Regions from separate parts of the Homo sapiens genome. Here region 1 is linked to region 2. The links come from fine-mapping of genetic effects on gene expression. Tissue or cell type: lung. Region 2 holds a variant in brackets; the other region holds the start of a gene. All regions are shown on one strand. Distances are from middle to middle.

Region 1 (2,904 bases), 35 kb after region 2:
GACACTCTACGTGAAATTACCCCCACCATCACCTACTGGCCTTCAGGACTTAGCTCAAATCCACCTCCTCCAGGAAGCCTGCCATGACCCCCATTGTAGCTGCCCTCACCAAGTGCTCGCATATGTATGGCTTTGCATGCACACATCAGGCAGGGTTGTCACTGTTTTCCTTCCTCTCTCTCCACTAGACAATGTCTTGACAACAGACTGCGTCTGTGTCCCTTATGCCAAGCCAGCGCAGTACCTGGCATGTGAGTAGGCAATAGTACCTACATGCCCGCTAAAGGAGGAAAGGACCAAACGGACAGACAAGCTCTGAACACCAAGCAGCTGTCTGTCAGCTTTCTCGGAGCTCAGAGCAAGCTTGTCCAACACAGCCCGTGGGCTACGTGCAGCCCAGGACAGTTTTGAATGCGGCCCAATGCAAATTCATAAACTTTCTTAAAACATTATGAGATTTTTTTTTTATTTATTTATTTATTTTTTTTTTTTGCTCATCAGCTGTCGTTTGTGTTGGTATATTTTATGTGTGGCCCAATTCTTCTTCTTCCACTGTGGCCCAGGTAAGCCAAAAGATTGCACCCCGCTGGTTTAGAGTATTTATGGGAAGTCTGCCCCGGGATCGGAGCAGATGTCATCCAGGGCTCTCAGATGCTGCGAAGCGGGGATGGTGTCCCCATGGCCGGCCCCCTGCACTCCCACCCCTGCCCATCCTCTCAACCTGGAAACCCGCCTTGGCAGAAGTATTTCCTGGGTTGACACTACTCCAGGATATTAATTAAAAACAAAAGCATTTTGAAAGTATTGCAAGTCCAGTAAGCACAGCACGTCCAGAGTCCTCTCTGGAAACCAAAGTTCTCTGCTGAAAACCTAGGCTTGTTGCTGCTTCAGGGTAATTCCCAGATCGGAACAGGCGCTGTTCCGCTGACAGAAAAGTCTCTGGAGCCCACCCCGAAGCCATCAGCAGAACTTGCCGGCCCCCAAAGAAAGAAACGGCAAAGCTGCCACCGCCTCGCGGATGTGCCCGGCCCGGCCCTCAGTTTCCCCGCCTACGCTGAGGCGCGGGACCCCAAGGCCAGGGTCCGCACCCTCCTGCCTGCTCGCCGGCGACGGTCTGACTAGCAGGCGCTCTGGAGGCATCCGGACCGGGGCGGGAACCGTCAGCAGCTCCGGGTCCGAGGCCGGGCCGAAGGACTCAGGGCCCCAGCGGTCGTGGCGCCTTGGCCCGGCCGGCGGGTGAGGTCCCGGGGGGAGCAGAGGCCCCCGCGGAGCTGCAGCCGCCAGCCCCGAGCCCCGCGCGCCCGGCTCTGGACTCCGCCGGGGACCTAAACACTCTTCCTGGCCCTGCCTGCTGTGCCAGGTGCGCCCCCGCGGCCGGACACTCACCCTCCTGCGGCCCCGCGGCACGGCCCCGACCCGGCGGGACGGCCCCCGCCAGCAGCAGCAGTGGCGGCAGCAGCAGCAGCAGCAGCAGCACCGCCCAGGCCGCCCCGGGACGGTTGCGGCCCGCGACCCCCATGGATGGCTCAGCGGTTGCGGGCAGAGGCGGCGGAGTGCGGGCGGTGGCGGCGGCGGCGCGGGGAGGTGTGCGCGGACGCCCTGCCCGCTGCCGCTGCCACCCCCGGCCCGGCCCCGCCCGCCCCCCGAGCCCCGGCCTCATTTTCACACGGTCCCTCCCGGGCCGGGGCGGGAAGCGCAGGCGGGAGCAGTGCCGCCCCGCCCGGCCTCCTCCCGTCCCCTCCCCGGCCTCGGGTGGAGGGGGCGCGGCCGCGGTGGCCCGAGCGCGGCTGTCAGCCTGGCGGGGCGGCAGCACCGTGCCTCGCGCCCCGCGCAGCCCTGGCACCCAGCCCGCTGCCCCCCGCATCCCCGCTCCGCTCCAACGCTCGGAGCCCTCGGTGCCGCGCCTGTTCCAGTGTGTTACAACTCGACCCAGGCCCTCATGTGAGGACAAACAGCCCTTCTAGATTGAAATATTCGGGGTCAGGGCGCCCAGAAAGTGTTCCGTATAGTCCCCAAACCCCAAAGCCATCTTGGGGCTTTCCACGTGGGAGGTGGGAGGTGGGAGTGGAAGGAATTGGGGGTGACTTCCAATTCGGGAAAACAGCTGTTTGAATGGAGAAGGTGACCCTGGCTTCTCTGCCCACCCCAGCACACCCTCTGCACCCTTCTCCACACTGCCCACCCCAGGCCCTCTGGGATCCTCCATCCCACAGCCCTGAGGGCACTGGTCCACTTGTCCCACTGTGGGGCACACTGGGCCTAGAATCCCTGCAAGCTACTTATGTATATCTCAGGGCAGCCTAAGGGGAAGGGGGCTAGAGGTCAAAGGTGAGCCACCAGAGACAACAGACAGCAGCCCCGACTTTGCCGGAGTACAGGTGGCATTTACGATCACCTGAACTCATAAACATCAGGTCTGGCTAGCTTCAAACACAGGCAGGGCCTAGCACCTAGCCTTCCATGAAAGACAGTCCTTGCAAGGGAACAGGTACACAGGGTCTTCCCATATCACACTTGACACGGATGGCTGGAGCCCAATACACCCACCATCACTCCAGGAACAAATATAGTAACAATTTCCGGACGCAACCAAACATCACACTTAGGGATAGTAATGTTCTTCACTGAGCTTCTCCGTATTTATTCAATTTTCTCCTGCGATTATATACATACACATATGTATATATGCAGGCACACGCACGCGCGCACACACACACACACCATTCCTTTGGAGATCAGAAAAAAAATAGATGTCACCAAAAAATCCCCACCTAGCTCATGCACAAAAACTCTTATGTCTTCTTGGGGCCTATCCACAGCCCAGAGCTCCCAGCCTCTGCACCCTCAGTACCCACTGTCTGCCACCCCAGCCCCCGAACATGCCCACGGGGGCCTGCCTCTTTG
Region 2 (2,904 bases):
GCCTCTCTGAGGACTGTGACTTTACTATCTGCTGAGATGTTCCAATAGATAGGTTATCAGCTCCTGAGATACCCTTCCACTCTCTGAATACAGCCGCAAGTCAATCAAGTCGATAGAGAATTCACAGCTGGAAGAGCTCAGTTCTTCTCTCTGCTCCATTTCACACTCGGTGTGTTAAAGGGATACATGTGGGGAGATTTCCTTTAGCAGATCCTGCTCTCAAGTTGATGGACTCACCGCTATTGCTCAGGGACTGCAATGTACCTTTCATACCCCAATGTAGGAAAGCAAACCTCAGGGGTAGGCCCTGCTCCCCTCCAGGCCCAGCCTCATTCCCCTCCCAACTTGACAGGGGCAGTCTGCTCACCTCCACAGTGGGTGAAGCCATACAGGGTGTACCCTCGGTTGCAAGCACAAGCAAATGTGCCAGGGTGGTTGATGCAGCTGTGGTCACAGGTCCTATCCAAAGAGCACTCATCCACATCTGTAATGGTCAAAGGGAGAGGGGAGCTGAAACCCACTCTGAGGGATGAGTGAAGAATAGGTTTATGATAAATACCAGTTGCTGACCAACACCAAAAACAATACACACAGAGTAAAAAACATTATCTATCCATTTTCCTCACTCACTTGTGTTAAAGAAAGTGTGGAGCAGCCCACAAGAAGTATACTGACTGCCACGGCCCTCATTTCCACATTCTGTTGCAAACTGCACTTCCCTCAAAACTCAGTTGGTCTCTTTCACCCATGCGTACTTGCAGGGCTAATTTAAAATGTTTAAATGAAGCCAAATGAGATAACATACCTAAAAAGGGTTTTGTAAGCTACAGGTGCTAGCTATGCATTTTTATTGTCATATAACTATTAGTAAAACAGCAATATTAATTTATTAACTACGGCAAATTGAAAGGAGAAAACACTTGGTTTGGAGGTAAATCTAGTTCCCATCCCTTTCTTATTTTCTCAGAATTAGTCTTCTGGCCCCAAGAGGCCAGTTAATCCTAGGTTTTAATGCCCTCTGCACTGAAAGAATGCATCAATACTAATATCCTCACTAATTTTCTCTTTGCAGGCCCTGAAATGTGGTAGTTCAGCTCCACATTGGATGCTTTTGGCCGATGCCTTGGTTTTGCTCCTCCCCTATGTGCCAGTCCTATGAGTCTGCTAGCCTCCTGGTTCAGTGTGGAAGCCTCCTTGGCTGCAGCGGGGGTCATGCACAGCAGCCTCAGGAGGCTGCATTTGTCCATCTCAGCATCTCTTTCCCTGGGTCTGGCCCTCAACCTCTTTCTTGTAGGCTGGAATTTGAGTGCTTCACTCCCTGAACTCTGGAGGATTTTAACATAGTTACGACTTGTGTCTCCAAATGGATAAACCAGGACCAGTGCCGCACTCAGTCGAAGCCAACTAGACCACTGCTAGACCACTTTTTTCAACACCGAGTGTGCCATGAGAAACTATGTTAATAAAAGGCAAAAATGTGGAAGGAACAGGAAGAATGAAAAAGCAAAATAAAAAAGGGCAAATTCTTGCAAAACCTCTTCATCCCTAGCTTTTCCCAGAAATCCTGGCATTTCTTCAGTAAATTTGTTCTGTGCAAGTATTTGTTCTACCAAGACCGATCAGTG[A/G]AAAATGAGAAAAACCTAGTTTCTTCCCTAGGAATTGATGCCATTTTATGAAATCTGTTATTAATATCAGCCAGTTGTCGAGAAAGTGCACTTGTTCAGTAGCTGACTTTGGCTGCTCAGTATGGGCTTTTGCTTTGCCAAAAATAATGAGATCACTTTTCTAATTCCTTTTTAATGTGTTTACACAGCTTCAACAGTATTGCCTGCTCTATACACTAGGAAACATTATGTGGAACAGCAAATTTGCTTTCCAAGTCAAACTGAAGAAAACCACACAATAATTATCTAGAATTAACTTACTGAATTTAAAGAGGAATATACTTGAACTGCCTGACAAATTATGCATTAAGAACAAACCAAGAGAAAAACAAAACAAACATCACACCATAATATTTTTGTAAAAAGGTAATGCTACATCTTTGTTATCTAAGATGAAATCTGATACTCTGATTTTTATTTAATTCTGATTTTTTTTTTTTTTTTTTTGAGATGGAGTCTCGCTCTATCCCCCAGGCTGGAGTGCGTGGGCATGATCTCGACTTACTGCAACCTCTGCTTCCTGGGTTCAAGCGATTCTGGTGTCTCAGCCTCCTGAGTAGCTGGGATTACAGGTGCCCGCCACCGCGCCCTCCACCATGCCCCCACCTAATTTTTGTATTTTTAGTAGAGACGGGGTTTTGCCGTGTTGGCCAGACTAGTCTCAAACTCCTGGCCACAAGTGATCGACCTGCCTCAGCCTCCCAAAGTGCTGAGATTACAGTGTGAGCCACCACACCCAGCCTAATTCTGAGATTTCTAACAAAATAAATTAGTCCTTATTCCCAAAAATGGAGCAAGAATACATTACAGCACATCTTTCCTGAGAACTTCTTCTGCATATCAAAGGGAAGGTGCTCATCTAAAAATAGAAAACAGCTTTCCCCCACCCAAAACAGCTGCTAATACTAACAACAACTGCTACCTAGAGAAGTCTCCTTGCTGCAGCCCTTATATGGGAAGGATGTGTTTGAGAAGGGGTCTGAAATCCTCTCTAAGGATCAACAAGCATCTCCTCCCCACAAGCCCTCCCCCTCCCTCTCTGCCTTCCCTCTCTTCAAAGATCAAAGGCTGATGGTTTAAAGCAAGTGCTGGGCCAGGTGCGGTGGCCCACGCCTGTAATCCCAGCACTTTGGGAGGCCTAGGAGGGCGGATCACCTGAGGTTAGGAATTCGAGACCAGCCTGGCCAACACAGTGAAACCCTGACTCTACTAAAAATTCAGAAATTGGCCAGGCGCAGTG

Direction of the effects. Positions count from the first base shown, and alleles are read on the strand shown. Sizes are in standard deviations (SD) of each study's normalised expression.
For the expression in lung of the gene that starts at base 1,590 in region 1, allele A in region 2 goes with a lower level than allele G (large effect, 1.2 SD a copy in GTEx).

Evidence for each region. PIP is the estimated chance that this variant, and not a neighbour inherited with it, causes the effect.
Region 1: SCUBE2 starts here. The variant in region 2 is fine-mapped to the expression of SCUBE2 in lung (GTEx, PIP 0.95).

Annotation. Positions count from the first base shown.
Region 1 is chr11:9,090,010-9,092,913 of GRCh38, forward strand. It overlaps SCUBE2 (signal peptide, CUB domain and EGF like domain containing 2), which reads right to left and starts at 1,590. Exons shown (of 23, transcript NM_001367977.2): 1 at 1,387-1,590. The coding sequence starts at 1,519. It overlaps MIR5691 (microRNA 5691), which reads right to left and starts at 370; the gene lies at 303-370.
Region 2 is chr11:9,055,426-9,058,329 of GRCh38, forward strand. It overlaps SCUBE2 (signal peptide, CUB domain and EGF like domain containing 2), which reads right to left. Exons shown (of 23, transcript NM_001367977.2): 10 at 368-484. The region is part of intron 1 of NRIP3-DT (NRIP3 divergent transcript); the gene reads left to right. Among named protein-coding and RNA genes, the nearest start is that of MIR5691, 34 kb to the right of the region's middle. The variant A/G (reference allele first, on the strand shown) is at 1,626.